3 separate regions of the Homo sapiens genome follow, and all the other regions are linked to region 1. The links come from fine-mapping of genetic effects on gene expression. A gene starts in region 1. Each other region holds a variant in brackets. All regions are shown on one strand. Distances are between the middles of the regions. Region 1 holds the start of LPCAT1 (lysophosphatidylcholine acyltransferase 1). Region 2 holds the start of LOC124901162 (a long non-coding RNA gene). Region 3 holds the start of LOC124901161 (a long non-coding RNA gene).

Evidence for each region. PIP is the estimated chance that this variant, and not a neighbour inherited with it, causes the effect. A credible set is the group of variants that fine-mapping cannot tell apart.
Region 2: its variant is the best candidate, but not a certain one, in a credible set for the expression of LPCAT1 in lymphoblastoid cells (GENCORD, PIP 0.89).
Region 3: its variant is the best candidate, but not a certain one, in a credible set for the expression of LPCAT1 in lung (TOPMed, PIP 0.86).

The regions. Positions count from the first base shown.
Region 1 is chr5:1,521,248-1,531,815 of GRCh38, forward strand. LPCAT1 (lysophosphatidylcholine acyltransferase 1) reads right to left here and starts at 2,713. Exons shown (of 14, transcript NM_024830.5): 1 at 2,463-2,713. The coding sequence starts at 2,597. RefSeq lists an enhancer at 236-740, silencers at 1,901-2,100, 2,371-2,680, 2,701-3,100 and a cis regulatory region at 3,870-4,105.
Region 2 is chr5:1,486,825-1,491,824 of GRCh38, forward strand. LPCAT1 (lysophosphatidylcholine acyltransferase 1) reads right to left here. Exons shown (of 14, transcript NM_024830.5): 4 at 2,922-3,034; 5 at 1,567-1,627. It overlaps LOC124901162 (a long non-coding RNA gene), which reads left to right and starts at 2,707. Exons shown (of 2, transcript XR_007059103.1): 1 at 2,707-5,000. The variant T/C (reference allele first, on the strand shown) is at 2,150.
Region 3 is chr5:1,541,232-1,549,094 of GRCh38, forward strand. LOC124901161 (a long non-coding RNA gene) reads right to left here and starts at 7,168. Exons shown (of 4, transcript XR_007059099.1): 1 at 7,078-7,168; 2 at 5,528-5,734; 3 at 2,862-2,985; 4 at 875-1,066. It overlaps LOC107986397 (a long non-coding RNA gene), which reads left to right and starts at 7,179. Exons shown (of 2, transcript XR_007059102.1): 1 at 7,179-7,270. The variant G/A (reference allele first, on the strand shown) is at 4,703.

The DNA.
Region 1 (10,568 bases):
CTGGCTGGAGGAGGAGGTGTCCCCGCATGGCGCTAATCCGAAGACACACAGCAGCCCCTCCCAGGCGGCAAATGCTCACAGGTAAATGCAGGTACTCACTGGTTTATCTCAACTGGGAACTTAGCTGGGTTTCTGCGGGTTCTTGAGTGTGTCAGCCACTACTGGACCCATTTCTTTCTTTGGGGAAGAAGGCTTTCTTGGCTTGAAAGACAGGCTATTTCACTCTGTGGAAACTTTACAAGAATATATCACATCAAAGTAAAAGCTTTGCAAAGCAATGCTTGGTGAAAAGCAAAATGTTTCTGCAGAGAACTTTGAGAACGTTTACAAACTAAACCCTTGAGCCACACATTGCAGACATCCAGCAGAAACGACTGGATGTACAAACACACCTAATTCCTCAGATGGAACCTCTGAAGTGGCAACAAAGCAAGCCCCCTCTCTGAGAGGCCCCAACACCTCAAGCCAGGATCTCTGCCTGGCTTCGGCCCAAGGGAGAACAGCTGCCCAAAGCCTTCAATCTCGGGACCAGGAGCCTCTCGATGACCCCCTGCCCAAGAGCCACTGGGAGCAGCTTGCACCCTGAGGTCTCGGGGAGGAAAGCAGGCCCCTCTGGGCACTCTGGCAGTGCCCTGACATCTGTACCTACCCATGAGAGTCTCTGCCCTGCTTCTCGCCAGGGCAGTGGGTGCACACTTTTGGACAGAACACACCTCAACCGGGGGCTGCAACTATGACAGGGATGACGAAGTGGCCTCCGGGGACCTCCAGGGAGGGGCTTGATGTTTCCCCCCAGGGAGCCAGGAGGGAGTAGGAAAGGCAGGAAGAGAGAGCATGCCTGAGGCAGCCATAGCTGGGGCAGGAGCAGGGCTGGGGAAGCCCTGGAAACCACAGCAGGGGTTCGAATTTCATCCGGGGGCGTCCCCGCTGAGGGCTTCCGAGCAGCAGAGTGCAGGAGGAAGAAAGCCTGCTGGGAGTGACTCAGGGAGAGTGACCAGGGAGAGAGCCTGGTGGCTGGGTGGGGGTGAGGATTGAAGAGGAGGAATGGTTGAGGGGCACAGAATGAGCGACCGTGTCCCAAGTCCTCCTTTGAGGGGCACAGCACACGGCAGCTGACAGCGTGTGGCAGACAGAGGGCCAGGCAGAGCGGCGGCAGAGGGGCCGGCACCGCCCCAGCCCCAGAGTCCAGCTCCCGACACACAGGGAGACGGGGGCCAGGGCCTGGGAGCCAGGCTGGGGACGACCTCACCCTGTGTGTCACCAGGAGGGGCGGCACCATCGGGCTCTCCTGCTCCCCGTCCCCTTCCATACCCTGAGGACCAGCCGCATCAAGGGGCTTTGAGCAAAAGCAGGCGTCCTGGGAAAATGACAAGCTCAAACTGGCCTCAAGAACTTTTCACTTCAGGGTTCTTTCAGATAAAGTACTTTATGCATTAACAAATCTCCATCTTCCCGGAAATCTATTCTCACAATTGGAAGCGTGCTCCCTACAAACCGGACAGCCCCATAGGCCCCGAAACAGTGCTTGCTTCTAGGAATTATTCTAGAGTCAAAAGTAAGGTCCTCTTGAGAGTGGATCTCAGGTAACTGTAAGCCCAGCTGGCAGCCAGGTAGCCGGAAAAGCCAGGCTGAGCCAGCACATCCCCGGTGCAGCTTCCTGCAGCGAGCGGCCCCCTCCCCACGACGCCCCCGGGTCTCCCCTCACCACTGTCCCATCGCAGGATCTCAGCAAACCGTTCCCTCCCACGTGGCAGCCCAGGTTGCATAAAGTTGATTCGGGTCAGACCAGCCCCGAGAAAGCATCCCTTACAACAGGAGCGAAGCATGCACCCCAGAAGGCAACGTGCGGCCGCAGAGCAGGGAGACCCGTGCGCCTACAGGGGACCCTACAGGGGACCCGCACCGCCCGCGCGCCCTGTCCCGGGCACCACCAGGCCCCGCACACGAGGCTCACCCAGAGCCGCGGTGCCCTCCCGCCCGCGGGCCGCGTCCAGGCAAAGCCGCTCCGGAGTCCCCGGGCTGCGCGCAGGGCCTGCCAAGGCGGGCGGGGCCCGGACCAGGGACGAGCGCGGGGACCGGCGATGCGGGTCCAGCCTCCCGCGGGAGCCGAGGTCGGGGCTCTGGGAGGCAGAGAAAGGGTTGTGGGCCCGGTTCAGGGTGCAGGGGTCTGGGGGGAGGAGCAGAACGCGGGGCGGGGATGGGAAGCGGGGACCCCGAGGAAGGCGCTGAGGGACCAGGATGCGCGTGCGGGCGGCGGGAAGCCGGCGCCGAGACCGAGGCATCGGGTGCGGGCGGCGGGGACGCGAACTGAGGGGCGGCCGCGGGGAGGGAAGGCGCCGCGGCTCGCAGGGCCGCGCCGCGCCCCAGGCCCCCTCCCCGGCCCCTCCTCGGCCGCGCCTCCCTGGCCCCAGCATCCCTGGCGTCCGCGCCGGCTCCCGGGGCCGCGCGCCCTGGGCACCCACCTGGGCCTTCTGCAGGGCGCTGAGGCGCAGCTCGTGCACGAAGGGGTTCCGCCCCGGGGGCGCCAGCAGCCGAGCGTCGCTGGCCCCTGCGCTGGAGGCAGGGGCGGCCCGGGGTCCGCATCCCCGCAGCCTCATGGCCGCGCCGTCCCGCGGCGAGCGCAGCCGAGCTGCCTGGGGCGCCGAGCGGGGCCGGGGCTAGCTGGGCGCGGGTCTCGGGGCGCGGGCCGAGGATGCGCGGCGGCTGGAGCGGGCCGGGCGCGCAGGCGCGGGAGGTGACGTGGGCGGAGCGGGAGCGCCGGCCGGGGCGGGGCGTCCCTGGAAGCCTCGCCTCCCGCCGGCCGGCAGGGGCGGCACCAGCCGGAGTTCCGCTACCTGGTGGTTTCTCTGGGGTCTGTGGGGGGCCGGGGCCGCTGGGGACCGGGGGCGCCTCCTGCAGCCACTGGAGCACAGGGATCCCCGGCAGGGTCTGCGCCAGGAGAAAGGGAGGTCCCCCGGGCCCGCGAGGCTGCCACGTCGTCCCCTTCCGCCGCTCGGCCCGCCTGCTCGCGGGGAGGGAGGAAGGGGCGGGCACGCGTCCAGCTTACGCGCAAGGCGGGCCAGGCCCTGGGTGCCGAGCCCCGGGCTGTTCCGGCGAAGGCCCCACGCCATTCTTCTTATTCGTTGGGCTCCTAGCTCGCACCGGCGACCCTGGAAGCTGCCCCGGGCTGAGGGAGCTTCTTCCAGCCGCGCCTCAGCCCAGGCGACTCCCGCCTGAGGTCCACTCGACCTTAGGACCCCCCAGACCTCGGGATCCCCTCAGATCTCAGGACCCCTCAAGCCTCAGGACCCCCTCAGACCTCAGGACCCCTCCGATCTCAGGACCTCTCAGGCCTCAGGCCCCGCAGGGATGGCCCAGGCAGGAGGCGCACATAGGGGCCCTGACTGTCCGTGCTGGTTGTGCAGGGGCTGCGATGAGATCCCAGCGCTTTCTCACCCGTAGCTGCTTTGGCTCGGGCATTGCCCTTGTGGTGCTCAGGAGCCGTGTGAGGAGCCCCAGGGTGGGGCCCATAATTAGCCGGAGCGAGAGTAGGATGGGCTCCTGCCTCCGGGTGAACACGCTTGGATTTCAGAACTCACGCAGGCCTTCGGTCACAGTGCTCACGGCTTCCTCACCCCGGCTGGCCCTGTTGGTTCCTTCATGGCCAACGGACCTCACCCAGACAGAGCCGGTTTGGGCCACCTGGCCAACCCCCCAGGGTCCTGGCTCCTGGGGATGTCACTGCTGTGTTGGCCCCAGCTGGGCCCCATCCTCAGCAGACGCCAGGGAGTGCCCCGACCCCTCCAATGACCCTGCCTGCGCCCTTGTGGACCTCATAGTGCAGCGGGCTGGCAGAGACCCTTCTGTGTCTGAGACCGGGGTGAGGGCCAGGGGTCTGTGCCATCCACATATCATGCACAGAGAAGGCCCCGGCAGGCCAGACCCGCTGCATGGCCTTATTCCTGCCCCATAAGAGTCCCAGCCCATATTCCTGCCCCATAAGAGTCCCAGCCCATGCCTAGCAGCAGCACCTGTCCCAAGTGCCACACCCACGGGGATGGGGTGAGCCCTGTGTGCTGGTGGGCATTGGTGGCTCTGTGGCCCAGCCACCAGCGTTGCACCCACCTCCTGGGCTTTTAGTGGCCACTTGCTCTGATCCCCAAAACCAGAGCCCAGCACCCGAGGCCACCCAAGGCTCCTCACCGAACTGATCATCAAGAAAGCCCAGGACACAAAGCCTGCCAGCCACAGGGCAGCACCTGCACCCCAGCGATCCAGGCGGCCCCACCTGCTGCCTGAGTGCTCTGGAGAGGAGGGGCCCTAGGGTGTCCCAGTCCTGGGATGAGAGCAGCCTCAGGACTGGACTTGGAGAGCCATGAAAGTGGGGTCCTCCCAGAAGCACAGGCCAGGAAGCGGTGTGTGGCGGAGGGGAAACCTGCTGGAGATGGTGCAGAGCCAGATTCAATGGGGAGAGCTGCCAGAGAGTCATGGCTGTGTCCCCAGAAGATGCAAAAGTCCTAACCCACAGCACCTGTGGCCGCGACCTTATTTGGAAACAGGGTCTTTGCAGATGATCAGGTTAAGAGGAAGTCATTAGGGTGGGCCCTAGTCTGAAATGGCTTGTGTCCCTATAGAGAGGGAGATTCGGTCTCAGAGACAGACACAGAGAGAGCTCCATGGGAAGGCCAGGGTTCTGCTGCTACAGGCAAGCAGTTCCCAGGAGCTGGAGAGGCCTGGAGCAGGTCCTCTCTAGTGCTCTCAGAGGGAGCCTAGGCCTAGGGTGCCATGATCGCAGGCTTCTGGCCTCCAGACTGGGAGAGAATAAATTCCTTCTGCTTTAACCTGCAGAGTGCAAAGTGAGTTGGAACCCAGGGAAGGAGGTGGGGAGGCTGGGGGAAGAACCTCATACTGCCCGGCAATCTAAGCAGGGTCAGCAGGTTGTCCTTGAGCCAAGGTCGGTGGAAAGAGGAGTCCCTCTCCCAGAGGGGTCTTAGGTGGAGCCACTGTGGGCAGCGTGGCCTTGGTGTAGAAGCTCAGTGGATCCTTGGGTCACAGGCACCATGTGGAGGAGGCGCAGAGGCCCAGCTCCGGGGTCAGTACACAAGGGGGCACAGCTGGGAGGGTGGGTGTGACAGGGCCAAGGGCTGTGCAGAGCAGGGGGCAGGACTGGGGCACACTCGTCCTCACCAAGCAGAACCCAAGAAGGCCCCAGAGAGCGGCCAAGGAGCGGAGGTCCCCAGAGGGGCTGAGTCCACGGAACTGCCCCATCCAGGAGGACTGGCCAGGAGAGAACTGGGAAGGCCAGCCAGTGGTAGTAGCAAGGGTGGAGACCACCACCCTGCAGGGTGCTGTGGAGTGGGCAGGAGTTACAGAGGTTCTTTCCCAGCTACCTGAGAAAGGAGGAAGCGTGATGGGCAGGAGGAGGAAAATGGATGCTTGGCGGGAGGCTGGGATCCAGGGCAGCAGCTCAAGGAAGGGGCCCAGGACATGTTCCTGGGTGGAAGGCAACAGGCCAGCCTCACAGGAGACGTTGAAAACCCCTGTGAGAGGGGGTGTCATGGGCCCATCTCAGTCTGGAAGGATTCTGCGCTCAGAGGAAGGAAAGGCCTGGGGCCCGGAGCGGGGACTCCTTCTCTGCTGCAGCTGGAAGGGGTTGGATGGTCCACAGGGCACGTGCCCAGGGGGTGGGGAGCTGGGGCACTCTTGTGTGTGGGAGTCAGTTTTCTCCTGGGGACTGCGAGGGGTGGGGGAGAGGGGCTGCTTATGGGGAAATCAGCGCAAGCGTGGAGGAGCAGCAAGGAAATTCCTCCACCCACACTGGGCCTTCACACTTAGGCTTTGGTTCTGCTATGTAATGGAACGTTCTTAAGACCTGGAGGGTCTGGAAGCTTGACTAAGAGAAGTTGGTCTTGGGTGGGGAGGTATAAGCAGTTTTCTCTGTCTAGCAGGGGAAACATGAGTTTCTCATTAGGACTTAGTTTTGGGAAAACCACCCTAAGGGCCCTTTAGCTACAAAGGGAGCCCCCACTGTGGTTCTCAGGAACCTCCTGGAAGCCCCCCACAGCTCCCTGGGGCTGGTAACCACACCCCTGAGGCTTCTTGCTCTGGTTTTGTCTCTGTTTTAAGAGTGTAAGCTCACAGAGAAGTGTTTCCTATACTCCAAGTGCATTGAGAACACAAGGTACCTGCTTGTTCTGGTAAGGCTGAGTATTTTTGTTTTGTTTGTTTAATTTTTGAATTTTAGAGTTATCTATAGGATAGAAAAAGATATTCTCCTTCATTTTCTACTAACATCTTTTTTCAGTTCTGCCTTTCATGGTTGCATTTTATTCTATTTGAAGATTTTTTTCTCTGCATGGAGACCTGATATTCTCAACACCACGTATCAATCACAGACTCCCACTTGTGGGTCCACTTCCAGCATGAACAGAAAGAAGGGTTCCTGAAGCTCCTTCTGGCTGCCCCATCTCACCCATTGGTCCGTGTACTCCTTTACTCCCGTCTCACCCGCCGGTCCGCGTACTCCTTTACTCCTGTCTCACACCTTTCAACCGTCTGCCTTAGTAACTGTAGAGGGGGTTCCTTCCTGTTGGCGCTTCTTCCCAAGAATTGTAGTAGGAATTCAGGGAATTTTATTTTTCCATCCAAATTTTGGAAGCAGTTGTCCCCATTGCTAAAAATTCCCGCTGGAAGCTTCCTTTTGAATCACATTAATTGTACAGGGTACTTCAGTAAGAATGTTACTTCATTCTTACTGTTCATTCTCCCTGTTCCCTAAGAATGTTACTTCAGTAAGAGCTGGCTGGTCCTGGGAGGGGCCCTCGAAGGGCCAGCAAGGCTCCAAGGCTCCAAGGCTTCAAAGCACTAGAAAATACAAAAAAAAAATTTTTTAAATGGATGATGTGGCATGGACACTTTATAATTTTGAGAACGATTTTTCACCAACATGGTTATTCTACCATTTATTTAGATGTTCTTTCATGCCCTTTGATAGCATTTTAAATTTTTCTACATAAAGATTCTGTATTTTTGTTAATTCCTTGATGCTTCATACTTCTGCAGTGATGTAATAATCGTTTCAAAAATTACTCTTGGGCCGGGCGCGGTGGCTCATGCCTGTAATCTCAGCACTTTGGGACGCCGAGGTGGGCGGATCATCTGAGGTCAGGAGTTCGAGACCAGCCTGGCCAACATGGCAAAACCCCATCTCTACTAAAAATATGACAATTAGCCAGGTGTGGTGGCACACGCCTGTAGTCCCAGCTACCCGGGAGGCTGAGGCAGGAGGATTGCTTGAACCTGGGAGACAGAGGTTGCAGTGAGCCAAGATCACGCCACTGTACTCCAGCCTGGGCAAGAACAGAGCGAGACTCTCTTTCAAAAAAAAAAATTACTCTTGACAGTATGGATTATATGGAGAACCACTACTGCTTGTGTAGAGGTTGTATGAAGACAGACCCCAGGGTACAAGAGGACCTGTGGATGTTCCAGATGAGGAGTGCACAGCCCCAGAGTGAGGGACTCCATCATGTACAATGGATGGACTTCCTATTCAACCCACAATCATGACAAACAGAAAATTGTGGTGGTTTTCAGTCACTACAGACTGAGATGGTTTGTTAAGCAGTGATAGTGTCTTTCAAAGAGCAGATATTTTAAATTTTGATGAAGTCCAATTTATCAGCGTTTTCTTTTAGGGATCATGGTTTTGGTATCCTCTTTTATAAATATTTACCTGCATCAAGGTCATTCAGATTTTCTTACTTCAGAAGTTTTACAGTTTTGGCTTTACCATTTAGGTCTGTATTCCATTTCAAGTTGACATTTGTACACGGCATAAAGTAAAGTGGAGGCAGAGGTTTTTTAGTTTCAAATGTTTTCGTCTGAATATTCAACTGTTTCGGCACCATTTGTTGAAGAGAATATTCTTTCTCCATTGAACTACCTTGACAACTTTGTAAAAAAATTAAGTGGCCATATATGTATAGTTGAGTCTATTCCTGGACTCTGTATTTTGTTCCATGGATCTGTACATCTGCAACTGCCAACATCACACTATACTGATTACTAAAGCTTTATATTAGTCTTGAAATTAGACTGCACTGCACTGGAGTGCAGTGGCCCGATCTCGGCTCACTGCAGACTCCGCCTCCTGAGTTCAAGCGATTCTCCTGTCTCAGCCTTCGGAGTAGCTGGGACTACAGGCATGCACCAGCACGCCCAGCTAATTTTTATATTTTTTAGTAGAGACGGGGTTTCACCATGTTGGCCAGGCTGGTCTCGAACTCCTGACCTCAGGTAATCTGCCCGCCTTGGCCTCCCAAAGTGCTGGGATGACAGGTGTGAGCCACCATGCCCAGCCAAAATTTTAGAATCATTTTGTCAAGAAACTGAAGTATCCAGGAACAAACAAACAAAAGGTTGGTGGGATTTTTAATGAGATTGTGTTGAATCTATTGATCAATTTGGGAAAATTGCCATCTTAGCAATATTGAGTTATCCATCCATGAGCATGGTATACAGATCATTTATTTAGGTTTTCTTTAATTTCCCTCAGCAATGTTTTATAATTTTCACTGCATAGGTCTTACATAGGTTTTCGAATTCTGTTCCTATTTCATGTTTTGATGCTGTTATAAATGATACTGCTTCTTAATTTCAATTTCCAGAAGTGTGTTGCTCGTATATAGAACTACAACTGATTTTATGTATTTACTTTGTAGGCATTAACCTTGCTAAATTCATTTATTAGTTCTAGTGACTTTTTTTGTAGATTCTTTAGGATTTTCCCCATTTCACAATCATAATACCTGTAAATAAGGAGCTTTATTTCTTCCTTCACCAGCAACACGTATGCCTTTCGTTGTTTGCATTTCCTCTTGTTCCACTGACTGTGACATCCTCTACAGAATGTTGGACAGAGTGCTGAGACTGGGCATCTTGTCTTGTTAACAATCTTGGGGATTGTTAGTACCCAGTGCCCAGTCTTGACATGAGCTGTGGGTTTTCACAGATGCCCTGAAAAAGGATGAGGGTGTTCCCTTCTATTGCTAGTTTACTGAGTAGTTTTTATCATTTTGGCCAAAAAGCTTGCTCGCGTCTATTGAGATTATCTTAAAATTTTCTTCTTAATCCTGTGAATATGGTGAATTGAATTGGTTCATATTCTGATTTTAAACCAACCTTGTTTTTCTGGATAGGCCTCACTTAACCATACTACACGATTGATTTATTACCGAATTTAAATTGATAAATTTATGTTAAAGATGTTTGTGTCTATGTTCATAAGAAATATTGGCCGTAGTTTCCCTTTCTTATAATGTCTTTGCCTGATTTCTAATGAGGATAATACTGTCTTTAAAACATGAGTTAGGAAGTATTCCAAATTCTCTATTTCTAAGTAAAGAGTGAGTAGGGTTGGTATTATATCTTCCTTAAATGTTTGTTAGAGTTCATCAGGGAAGCTATCTGGAATGAGAATTTTCTTTTTCAGAAAGATTTAAAGATTATGAATTTGAGTGCTTCATTAGATAGGTGTTATTCATCTTTTCTATTTCTTCCATCTAAAAACCTAAATTTTTTTAGTAATTTAGATATTTCCAGGAATTTGTCCGTTTTATCTAAGTTATTGATTTATTGGCATAAAATTGTTTATCATAATCCCTTTTATCCTTTTAATATCTATAGGATCTAGACTGATAGCCCTTGTTCACGTTTATAATATTGGTAATTTGTGTCTTCTTCCTTTTTCTTGATCACTTTGGCTAGAGGTGTATTTTGTTATTGATCTTTAGAAATAGCTGCCTTTTGAATTCATTGATTTTTTCCTATTATTTTTCTGTTTTCTATTTTTGTTGATTTCTGTCTTTATCATTTTCTTTTCTCTCCTTATTTTAGGTTTAATTTGCTCTTCTGTTCCTACTTCCCTAAGTAGGAAGTATAGACCATTGATTTTAGACCTGCCTCATGTAATACCACAAATTTCCTTCTAAGTTCTGCCATATCTACATTCCACAAATGGTGGCATGCTGATTTTTCATTTTCTTTCAGTTTTCAATGTACTTTCTCTTTTCCCATGTGGTTTCTTCTTTGATTACTGTGGCTTTTTTGTTATGTGTTAACTTCCAAATATTTGGAGAATTTCCAGTTAATTTTTATTATAACTTATTTGTGGTCACAATACATACTCTGTATGATTTCAATCCTTTTATAGTCTGTGTTTATGACTGTTCAGGTGTATATTATAAGAAAAGGTTCTCTTGTTTTTGTGTGGAGTGTTCTATGAATGCCAGTTGACTCCATTGGTTGATAGTTTTGTTCAAGCTTCCTGTATCTTTGTGCTTTTCTGTTACTGTTATATGAATGACTGAAAGACCAACTATAATTGTGGATTTGTTTATTTCACCTTTCAATACTGTTAGTCTTTGCTTCGTATATTTTGAAGCTATGTTATTAGGTACATATATATTTGAAATTATTCTGTCTTCCTGGTGAATCAACCTTTCCATCATTATGTTATGTCTCTCTTTTACTCTGGTAACATTTCTTTTTTTTTTTTTTCTTTTCTTTTTTTTTTTGGGACAGAGTCA
Region 2 (5,000 bases), 37 kb before region 1:
GCTGGACCCACTGGAAATGGAGACGGGGAAAGGATCAAGCCACCGTGTCATCTCCCCAGACCCCGTGGAACCCACCTGGGGCACAGCGAGCGCCCTTCCTGGACTGCACACAGTGAGCTCCTACTGGGCACCGCCATGAGTCCCCTCAGTTTCGTGATATGCGTTGAGAGGTGCTCACACGCCCTCCTCACGTCTACACAAGGGCCGCCAGCTCCAAAGGGCAAGGCGATGGCCCTCCCCAGGGGCCTCCCTGCAGGCACGAGGCTCCACTCCCGAGGAACACCTGCCCTTGAAGACAGGGCCCAGCAGTGACCCCAGCCCCACACCTTGTCAAGGAACAAGACCTGACGTACTTGCCAGCTGTCTTCTGCCTGGGGCCTTGGAAACACGGCCCACTTTTGGCCTTCACCAAGGTTGCCCACAGGCCACGCCCAGGCACGGACCCAGTGTGGTGGGGGCACACGGATTCGTGGTCACCGCGTGCCGCCTCCACCCTCTGCATCTCTGGTTCTGATCAGAATGACTCAGAACCACGCGTGGTGAAGACAATGGAACGGGAAGACCCAGTACCTTCCAGTGAGCTGCACCTTGAAGCCTCTGGAAGCAAAACCTGCCATCTGCCTGCTGCACCAAGGAGGGTGGAGGGTGAAAGCACGCGCATCTGAGCTGGAGGAGGATGGCCACAGGCTCGGAAACCCCGGCGGCACACGTAGGTGAGTGACTGCACACTTTCTCGACCCAGCTCCCATAAATGTCCAGACACTCAGGTTGTGCGGCCCCAGAGGCACGGCAGCCGGTGCCAGTGTGAGCGAGGAACTGGCTTTTCCACGTGACTCTGATCCAACCACAGAGAACAGGTCTGCATGCCCCAGTATGGACACAGTTGATGAAAGCCACTACTTTCTAAAGTAGCCCAAGGGAGACGACAGGATCCAGGTGGACCCTCTGACACGCCCAAGGGTGTGCAGAATTCCAAACAGACTCAGCGCAAAAAGAACAGTGGACTCTGCTGCCTGCTCACTGCCACACTTCCCACGTCAGGGGTGCAGACACAATACTAGACCCAGGTAACCGCCGCGGGAGAGACCCAAGTTCACACGCATTTGAGTCCCCCCTCCCCAGGGAGAAAGAACACTGTCTAACTGGGGACCTGGGGACCTGGGCATCTGAGGATGGCTCGCAGGGATTTGCACCTGGGATTCCCAGGCGGGTGTGGGGCGTGAGCTGCAGGCCAAGAAGGGTACCCTGAGCCATTCAAAGGCAGTGAGACCCCTTCTGCACCCAGGACCCTCCAGCCTGGACCTCAAAACAGAGGCAAACATCTATCTCCACCTCACTGGAAACGCCCTGAAACCGTAACTTCTCCATCTTCCTGCAAACATGATAATCCTTGACTCACATTCTCAAATTTATTTTGTGACTTTTCTTAGGAATACCTCTAAGAACCCCAGCACACAGGATAAAAACAGAAACTGTTCTTATGTGCACAGCACATTATTAAAAAACATCTCTTTAATATTTTCCTTTTCTCTAGGAGAAAAATAAACATTTAAGAAAACTACATACCAGGTTTGAAGGTAATTAGGCAGGTCCTGTTTGTACAAGTTCCTTCTGGAAAAATCATTATCTGGAAGTGGGAGAAAGAAAAGGATCAGCATTAAACTGTACATAATTATAATTCAGAACTTACAGAAGCCAATCTTCACAATATATTTTCTTTTCTGCTGACATAATTTGGACACTGGGATCATATTCAGTACGTAAATTATTAAAATGCATTATGGAAGCACACACTGATTTCCGCTCTGCTGGTTTTATTAAAGTGTGGCAGCAGTATCAACACATAAACAGCATCTGTCTTCTTCAACTACAGCTCCTGGAAAGCAGGGTAGTCGCGGTGCCCACCTCTCAGACACTGTGAGAACCAGGTGCAACTAAATATAACCCACGGTTGGCACAACATAAGCACCTCCTGGGGGCAGCACTCATTCTCATCAGGAAGAAGGTGGGGAGGAGAGCAAAGACCCACAAATGGCAGTGCCTGGCTGATGGAGCCGAAGGAGGGCTGGGACCCCAGCAACGGGCTGGATGAGCAGGAGAGCCGAGCCCCAGTCAGGCAGCACCCTCCACACCGGGGTTTCAATTCCTC[T/C]GACTCACACTGGCCTGCAGTAGCAAAAACTGCCCTCAAACTCCCAGCCCCGCAGGCTGCTTTCAGTTCTGGGCCCCGTGAGGAAGACAGACCTCAGGGGGGCCGGCGTGGGCTCACCCTGGCAAGCCCAGGGCCAGGCAGGCCAAATGGGTGGGGGAGGAGACTGCCTGTGCTTGTGGGGGCAGAGCTGGGGCACCCTGGAAGTCACAGCCCTCTAAGGGGCTGCCCCCAGCCAGACCCTGCAAAGCTTCGTGAGCAATCAGATCCCAGACAGTTCTGTAAAATTTCCAGCTTCTAATGATGGCTCAGCTGGAAAGAAGAAAAACAGCGTCCAAGCTAATGTCAGCCAGGCTGCCCCTACAGCTGGGTTCAGGGCTTCTGAATGCCTGGGAACCAGCATACAGACCAGGAAGTTTACTCCAGGACTTTTAGAACCACCCAACACACAGCAGGCTGACACATCAACTCCAAAATCACACTGCACCAGGAGGGCGGGTGAGCAATGCTCTATCTGAGTCAGAACTTAGTTCAGAAAAGATGATTCAGGAAGCTGAGATGCATTTGAGAATTGTTTTTCTTTACTTTAACTTTAAATTTCGGGCACCGAAACCAAATGCACCTGACAGCACCCTCCTGAGTTCACGCACTCACTAGGAGAAGAGAATCAGAATCCAGCCCCGGAGGAAGGGCCCCAGTTTCTTTCTCCCCACTCGCGAAGTTCGCATCTTTCGGAATAAAACCACTGAAACACAATCAGGGCTACGTGCATTACCTGTGGCCACTTTCCGTTGGACTGCGCCCGTCTCTTGATTTCTTCTACTGTTTTCCTGCGAGAATCCTGGTCTGACCGGGACACGAACACAGGCCGTATATACTGGATCAGAGCTGGAAGAGAGGAGGGGAGACGGATCACGTGGAATGCACGGCTCCCGCCAGGCAGGGCTGAGGAACGAGGGGGCTGCTGCATGGCGCCCAGTGGGGCGGGAGACTCCAGATGCCCCAGGGGCTGTGCCATGGGTGGGCTGTGAGTCCCTGACTGAGGGAACGGGAACAGCACCCGGGCTTCCCATGTCTGTGACAGCAGGAAGCCCTGTAGCCTCAGTGCCACAAGTAACAAACAGCAAGTCCATGGCACCCACTGAGGACACGGAGCACAGAACGGAGGTCAATGAAAGACAACCGCCAGGAAGCAGAAAGTCTTTAGACCCAGTCTTCACAGAGGACAGGGTTGAAGGTGCCAGGTCCCTAGATTGGACCCCGCCTTCCCCCTGTGGGTTGAACTGCATCCCCTAAAAGACAAGCTGAAGTCCTCACTCCTGGTACCGGGAATGGGACCTCATTTCGAAACAGGTGGTAGCAGATGCTCAAGGTCCCGGATGAGGGTCCCTATGGGAAGAGGAGACAAAGCAGATGCTCAAGCTAAAATCCCAGATGAGGGTCCCTATGGGAAGAGGAGACGAAGAGGGGGAGAGAAGGCCAATGATGAAGGAGGCCATAGGAGGATGTGGCCACAGCCCCCACCACGAGCCGGGAGGGCCGAGGGAGCTTTCAGAAGAGCCCAATGCGGCCAGCACTTTGTTCTGGCACTTCTGCTTTTAGACGGCGGGAGAATATGCTCCTGTTGTTCTAAGCCACCAGCTTTGTGGTGCTTTGTAGCACAGCCCCAGTTTAACCATGGCACCCCACAGCCTCCTGGAAGTTGCGGGGTTGGGGTACAAGGGACACCCCGCCATGAAGGCTGGTGCTCAGCCAAGGCAACGTGGCCACGGCACCTGTCTTTATGCAAGAGGATTGAACGTGGAAACATACTTCTTAGAAGAGAAAACTCTGAAGACTTTAAAATGAAACTATCCCTGAGTGGAGCTTCCTTTTTGAGGACGGTGAGCAGGATCCACACTCGGCGCCCCCCAGGCCAACTGAAGGTGTCTCTGACCCCACCACGGGCTCCTAGGCTGCTGCAGGTCAGCCCCACCTCCCCACCCCAGTTCAGTTTCCAGTTTCTTTTCTTAGCGTTTTTATTACTTGTAAGGAGTAGCATTTCATGACTTTTATTCTTTCTTGGAGGTTCTCTCCTCCAAGAACGAGAAAATTGAAGCCAAAAAAAGAAAATTCCTTCTATCCTGTGGTTGTCTGTTGGGTCTCTGTGGTCTTTCCTATGTCTTGAATCATTTTGCTTTTTCACGATTCCAGTACTATTTCATCCTTGCTCATTGGTTATTCCCAACTCTGCTAAAAAGGACGATATCGGAAGGGAAGAATGGCGGAGTCGTCTCGCAGGATGGCGCACGCGTCAAAGAAATGGCCCTGATTGCGTGGTCTTTCGGTGCCCACTGTTTTGGCCAAAGCGTCCCATGGTCGTCCCGGGGCACACGGGGTCTGGAGATGCCACCCTGCCACCTTCGCAATCCTGTCAGCTGGTTTGTTTTGTGAACAGAGTAGAGATTTCAGAAGTTGTCTATAACGGCAAAGAACAGAACAGTGACGTGGGGGCGTTTCACACTCAGATGGGTCCGGGGGTAAATGTGGGGGGTGCAGGGGGAGGACTCTGAGTGAAGTCTTGGGCCGTGCGTCTTCATGTGGGTTGCCCGGTGTGCCTTTCACGCTGAGAACTGGGCAGTGAGGACAGCAAGGAGATGCAGCTCCTCCCCGGGAGCCCTGAGGAGGGAAGGGTGTCACCACGCCGTGTGCACAGCCACACTGGGACTGGCGCATTTTGCCAGCAAGAAGGTGACAGCGTTCTGCCGTCTTTTGGGCATTTGAGGCTCAAACTTTCCTTGACAAGGTTTGTAAATGGATGGTGCGGATATGAAGGTCACTGAAAGGAAACTAAGAATGTGAAAAGGAAAAAATC
Region 3 (7,863 bases), 19 kb after region 1:
CCCCTGCTGTTCCTGCAGCCACTTCTTTGAGTCTTGACCCAAAAGTCTGGCAGACAAGCCCTGGGCCCTGCTGTGTGCACAGCTCTTGTGAGTCCACGCATCCTGCCTGCATCTTAGAGAAGGTTTCATTGCTTGGTATAGAGTAGTTTCCAAGGCATCTCGGTGAGTGAGTTAGACCATTTTATAGACAGGGAAACTGAGGCACAAGAGACTGACCCGGGTCATAGCCAGGACCAGTGAAGGAAGGTGGTGACCTCATTCCCAGTCTTTGGGGTCTTTCTTCTGGGCACTCATCCAGCGTCCCAGGTGGAGTGTGCCCTGTGACCGTCCATTTCTGCAGGTGACTTTCTAGAAGGAGGCTCTGGTTCATAACACTTGGTTCCCAGAAGAAACCATTTTTCTCAACTACGGTACATTTGACATCAAATAAGGATTTAGATACTTAACATTGTTTTTATATCCTATTAGAAATTCTGACTTCATTTACTATATTGTGATAAACCTTCAAAGCCCACGGTAGTAATTCTGGCAGCAGAGCTGGCAGGCTGAAACCGCTTCCATGGAGATGCATCTCACAGGGTCCCAAGTGATGTAAACAAAACTTGTGTAATGAACACAGCATCTCCCTCAGCGGCTGTGTCTGTCCCATTTTCTTTGACTTTAAATACATGATACTCTGTGGGAAGCATGAGCTGAAATAATGATCTCGTCAGTGGGTCTTTGTGAAAACTAAAAAGATTTTTGAAATCTAGAGGCACGCAGCTTTTTTTAGTATTTGAATGCATCTTTCTTCACACTTTGGGTTTGCAGAACAAATGTTTGCATGTAATTTTGCTTCCTAAAATGTCAAAAATAGCACAAATATGAAAACAAGTATTCTCAAAGAGTGATCTTTTATGGAAAGACTGCTTACAGTAACTCGTTCCAGTTGGCTTTGAAAAATGCTGCGTGGAATTATCTTCACATACTTGGGAACAGGGAGTGTAAGGGAAACCCCTGCCTCACCGTCTCAGGAGCATTGTGACGAGGGCCTCTTCCTTTCCTGGCCTCCCACAAGCCCCAGCATCTGTTGATTGAAAGAGGAAGGTGTATCTCCTATTTTAAAATCATGTATAATTTTATATTTTCTAAAACATAAGCATGGCTAATTGTATGATCGCTTATGTCATTTGTAAGGAATTCAGCATAAAAAAATTTTTCTCAGCTGGGCGCAGTGGCTCACGCCTGTAATCCCAGAACTTTGGGAGGCCGAGGCGGGCAGATCACGAGGTCAGGAGTTCGAGACCAGCCTGACCAACATGGTGAAACCCCCGTCTCTACTAAAAATGGAAAAATCAGCCAGGCATTGTGGCACACACCTGTAATCCCAGCTACTCAAGGAGAATGAGGCAGGAGAATCGCTTGAACCTGGGAGGCAGAGGTTGCAGTGAGCCGAGAGCTCACCATTGCACTCCAGCCTGGGCAGCAGAGCAAGACTGTCTCAAATATATATATATATATATTTTTTTTTTTTCTCAGAGTTGCAAAGACAGAGACCTCCTTTGGTTGAGAGGAGGGCAAGTTTCGAAAGGAGGAACTTTGCTGTGGGGAGGAGTCAGTGGCCAGGCCCCACAGAGTCTGACGGCCTCTCCTGGCATCCAGCCTCACCTCCTTCCTAATGATACAACCTGCATGTTTTAGCTGGATGTGTGGCTACCCAGGGTGAAGACTGTATTCCCAGCCTAGGTGTGGTCGTGTGACTAATTCCTGGCAGCACATTGGATATGATCCCAAGATTGTGGAGCTTCTGGGAAGTGCCCTTGAGTAACTTCCTGTTGGCTGGAAGGTAGCTGTGTTGGCTAGAGCTCCAGCATCCATCTTGGCCTATAAAACAACTTCAGGAAGGGAAATTAGGCCAGCAGCAACTGGGGAGAAGGAGTCTGGGTCCTGGACCTTTGGAAGGGCCCTCTCAGTTCTGGACTGGCTACCTCTGGCCTTATGAATGGGAGGGAGGAATGAATGGTGGGGGAATGAATAGGAGTGGGGAGTGAATGGGAGGGGGGAATGAATGGGGGGGAATGAATTGGAGGGGGAAATGAATGGGAGGGGGAATGAATGGGGGGAATGAATGGGGGGGAATGAATGGGGGGGGAAATGAATGGGAGGGGGAATGAATGGGAGGGGGAATGAATGGGAGGGGGAATGAATGGGAAGGGGAATGAATGGGAGGGGAGAATGAATGGGAGGGGGGAATGAATGGGAGCAGGGAATGAATGGGGGGAAATGAATGGGATGGGGGAATGAATGGGAGGCGGGAATGAATGGGAGGGGGAATGAATGGGAGGGGGGAGTGAATGGGAGGGGGGAGTGAATGGGAGGGGGAATGAAGTTCTATCTCATTTAGGTGATTATTGTTTTGGACATTTCTGCTACTTGGAGGTACAGCTGATTCTAATGGACCTGCAGGCTCCTGGAGACACTTGGACTGGAAAAGCAAAACCAAGGCCCATGACATCTATCTTTGCATATTGAAGTAGATTTAGAAAACCCTTTCGAATCCCTCTGAGTACTTTTATTTGCTGCTCCCTCTCAACCTCAACTTTGTTCCTCATCCCACTTTCTACTGGACATTTTGACCTGGCCCTTTGCCCTCCCTTCCCTTTGCCCTCCCTTCCTGCACGCTGCTGAGCTGTAGCTCTCTCGGGGGTGCCCAAAGACTCCAGCCCTCCCAGCCCCATCTCCCCACCCTCGCCTCAGCCCTTCCTCCTCACTGAGCCCCCGTGCCTAGCTGTCTGCTGACCGTGGGTGCTGCCTCACACTCCAAAGCCCATCTCCTCCTCAGGTCACCCCTTGGCATCCGACACCCCCAGAACCTTATTCACCTTCTCTGCAGGTCCAGAGCCCAGCAGAGCTCTATGCCATGGCAGGAGAGTGGGAGGCATTTCCTAAGAATGCTGCCTTTGGCTCTGAATTCCCAGGACATTTTGGTTGCATAATATTCATTGTCTGAGAAAAGAAAGAAAAGAGACTCATTTGGAGAATTAAAAAAATTATTGTAGAAAGATTTCATTTAATAAATCCTCACTCTCATTAGTATCTAAGTAGCCCTTTTACTGTCCTAAATAGATGCCAGGGCAGGAACCAGGGTGCAGAGGGCTCTGGCCCTGGCGGCAGCCTGGGACTCACATTGCTATAGGTGGGCCCAGAGGCTTCAGGGAGAAGCCTGTCCCCTTCTATCTCCCCTCTTCTCTTGTGGAGAAGCAGCTCCTTCCTGCCTGGGAGTCCCAGGACATCTTCGAGGAGGGGACATTTGAGAAGGATGGGGGAAGAGGCCAGGAGAAAAGCAGGGAGGGAGGAGGGAAACCCATCATCAGCTCTGGCCGAGGCCTGTCTTGTAAGACCCCAGGGCCAGGGCCAGGCCGGATGTGTACCAAGTCGGACCACGTGGAAGAGGCTTGAATGCGTGAGAAGGTGCCCTCTCCCTCCTTCCCTCCTTCCCTGTCCCCTTCTATCTCCCCCCTTCTCTGTGAGCAGGCATTGGCTCCTCAGAAGGGCCTCTCACTCAGTTGGATGGTGATGCATTCCCCACTCATGCCTGGAAGTAAGCGGGCGCAGCCACTGTGGATGAGTTGCCAGTGGAACCATGAGTGTTCCTGCGTGCGGCCTGCACCTGCACACACACCTGCACACACGGGCACCTATACACACACTTGTCCCTGTGTGCACATACCTACACCTGCACACACACCTCCAAACACACCTGCACCTCTACACACTTGGCCTGTGAACACACACCTGCACCTGCGCACACACCTGCACCTATACACACACTTGTCCCTGTGTGCACATACCTGCACCTGCACACACACCTCCAAACACACCTGCACCTCTACACACACTTGGCCCTGTGAACACACACCTGCACCTGCACACACACCTGCACACACGGGCACCTATACACACACTTGTCCCTGTGTGCACATACCTGCATCTGCACACACACCTCCAAACACACCTGCACACACATGTGAACCTCTACACATGCTTGGCCCTGTGAACACACACCTGCATTGGCACACACACCTGCACATGCACCTACATGCACCTGCACCTATATACAAATTTGCCCCAGTGAGCACACAACTGCACTTGCACACACATCTGCACACAAACTTCTGCACACACCTGCACACACCTGCACCTATACATACACGTCCCTGTGCACACACACCTAGAGCTATATACATACTTGCCCCTGTGCACTCACACCTGCACACACACCTGTACCTGTGCACACACCTGCACACATACCTACACACACCTGCATCTATACACACTTTCCCGTGTGTACACACACCTGCACCTGCACTCACACCTGCATGCACACCTGTACCTCTGCACACCACCTGCATGCACATCTGTACCTCTGCACACACCTGCACACATACCTACACACACACCTGCATCTATACACTTTCCCCTGTGTACACACACCCACACCTGCACTCACACCTGCACGCACACCTGTACCTCTGCACACACCTGCACACATACCTACACACACCTGCATCTATACACACACCTGCACCTGCACTCACACCTGCACGCACACCTGTTCCTCTGCACACAGCTATGTCACCCCACATGTGCACTCTCACCTAAGCTGGAGCAGCCCAGAGGGTTTGCTCATTTGCTCATTAAGTGGTTCTTGCTTGAGCAAACC[G/A]GGAAGTCATCTTGAGTGGAAGCACCTGGTCTCTGGTAACAGACGCTGAGAATCACCTGATTTGACCCTTCGACAGTGAGATGATTGTCAGAACAGAACCCTTGTGCATATTTTCAATATGAGTTGATGAGGCCAAGAGCTCTTATTGGATGGGAGGTTTATTTCATAAGCCACTTGATTTTAAAGACTCAACAGAGAGGACATATTTCTTAGTATACTGAGTAAGACATTAACATTTGTGTTTGAGGGAGGACATTTGAGCCAGGATTTTGCAAACATAATTGGTTTGCAGTCCTTGACTCCTTGGAGTGTTTGTGTCAGTTGGGATTGAAACGGCATGTATTTAACTTTATCAGTATGTTTTCAGAGTCATCTTCATTTAGAAAACGCATTGATAACCCAGAATGAACATATTTTTTGCAGTGATATTCTTTAAGCTGAAAATGAAATATTTGCTTCTACACCATTTAGTTGTGCCAGTCGCCTTTGATTTAGCAGACGATTTTGCTCTGGCTAAGTTGCTCTTTTAGACAGACGTTTATATGGGCGATGTTTTCCAGCAATGTGTTTAGCAATTCTCCTTTTCTCCATGTTCACATTTAAAGGGTTGTCTTAGACACCCATTTGCAGCCAACATGATCCCTAAGCTGGGACAAATGCAGCAAGTCAGGCCCTTGTGTTCAGGAAGTTACTCGTCGTGACCCAGGAAGGCAGTGACACAGGGAGTGACAGGGCTCTGGGCTCTGCCCTGTGATCTTGGGAAGTGACTCGGCTTTTCTGCCTCACCTTCCATCCTCTGCAAAGCAGGGGCGAGGTGGAACTTACCTGTAGGACCGTGGAGTCTGGAGGGCGCGCAGCTGTCCTGAGACCGGGCCTGGCCCACAGCGGGTGCTTACTCAATGCTGATGTCTCGGCACGTGCGTCATGTTCCGTTCTGGAGTTAGTCGTCTTTCATGAACACGCGGGAAATTTTGGGGTGGGCAGGGGCCCATCACCGGATCAAGGTAGGGTTTGACCGATGTGACTGGTTAGCTGGAAAACATTGATTATTTTATGGGGGTGAAGAACCAGCCACACTTTTTACAGTGTTGGATCTTAGATTGCAAACTGCGTTTTGTGAAAAGCTGGGAATTTCAGCTTCAGCTACTGATTAAATTACCACAAAAAAGCACTGCCAATTTAGGGTATTTCAGTAGAACTCTGGGTTTGAATATTTCTGATTTCTAGAGGAAGAGACAGCATGTTGCGTCTTGGACAAGTCAACACCTTCTCTTTGAGCAAATTATTTCTTCTATATTCACAGTTGATTCAGAATTAGATGGACCCAGCAACGATGTGTCCTCAGTTCTTCATTTTGACAGTCTGGGTTTGTTACTGCTCAGAGCGCACATGTGTTTCTCCGGACATACATCCCTCGCACATCTGCGCACTGACAGGACTTTAATGTATCAATGTGCACACATCGGGCCCTAGAACCGGAGGCTGTCCACTCTGCTCTGCGGCTACCCTTGCCCTTCAGGGTCTCTGGGGAGACAGTGACACCGTAGGGTGTGGGGCAGGCACCAGGACTCTGCAGCTAGAAAGGCCTGGGTTCAAACCCCCGTACTATTTTTACCACTGTGATAACTTTGGAAAGGGATTTCCATTTCTAAGCCTTGGCGTCTCCTCTATAGAAAGGGGTGAATAAGAAGACCTGTCTTCAGGGCTATTGGAAGAGCATCGTGGTAGAACGCTCTTAGTCAACAGTCACTGCCATCGTTAGCTCCCTAAGTGTGGGTCTCCTCTAACCTAAACACAAAATTCTGGTCTTTCTCCCTCACTGTGCCAGCAAAGGGAATGTACTCTTCACCACCCATCAGGTTTGAAGCTGTGGCTTCTTCTCATCCAGGAGTCTGCTTGGTGCTTGCGGCTGAACTCCTCCAGCATCCTTGTCAACACGGCCTCCTGACAGTGGTGCTCTCCAGAAACCAAGTGCGCTGGTGTTCTGCTGTCTTTTTCTTATTAACCATGAACTCAGAGAATGTTTCAGCAGTTGGTATCATGTCTTTCAAGGTGATGCTTACTTTTTTTTTTTTTTTTTTGAGATGGACTTTCGCTCTTGTTGCCCAGGCTGGAGTGCAATGGGGCGATCTCAGCTCACCGCAACCTCCACCTCCCGGGTTCAAGCGATTCTCCTGCCTCAGCCTCCCTAGTAGCTGGGATTACAGGCGCATGCCACAACACTCATCTAATTTTGTATTTTTAGTAGAGATGGGGTTTCTCCATGTTGGTCAGGCTGGTCTCGAACTCCTGACCTCAGGTGACCCACCCACCTCAGCCTCCCAAAGTGCTGGGATTACAGGCATGAGCCACCGCACCCGGCCAGCGATGCTTACTTTTATTAGAACACGTTAGCTGGCATCTGAGTGTCACAGGGATGCTGTGTGGCAGCCAGCCCGGTGCTTGAGTCACAGCTCAGCTCTGCTTCTCAATTCTCATTCCATCCTTGTTCCCTGGAGTCCTGCGGGAGTGGCTGCTGCTGGATGTTGTCTCTTCTTTGGTAGCTGTCAAAAGAGATTCATGAAAAAAGTGAGTAGGTAAACGGCCCAACTACCTTACTGACCTGTAACCCTAGGAAATAAGCTGGGGTGGTTGGGGGCACAGGATCCTCTAACGGAGACCCCAGGGACCCAGGCGTGTATGTATAAAACCAGCCAACAACAAATCAATCTGTAACAGGCAAGAAGATCTACGGAAATGTTCTCTTTTCCTTTTTTAAGAAGAACGGTGGGAAAGCGATGCACATGGCCAAACGGTGCAATCGGAGGGGCAGATAAACAGCGCGATCGGAGGGGTTGATAAAGGTGTGATCGGAGGGGCTGATAAACGTTGCACAATGTTGCCTGTTTTTCTACATTGTCGCTGTTTCTCAGAAAGTGCCCTCAGGCGATGACACTCAAGAGCCCTCCTCACTGCAGGCTACAGGTGTCTCCCTGGAGAACTGCGGAGGGGCTCTATAGCACGGACCCTGCCCGTGTCATGGGCATACAGAAGAATCCGTGCAGGCTTCCCAACGGGCGGGATCCTGATGAGGGGCTGGTTCTTCTAAAGCAGGAGCAGCTGAGCGTGCAGGGAGGCTGCTGACCATCCTGCCCTGGAGTCTTCCGCAGCCACGGTTGCCT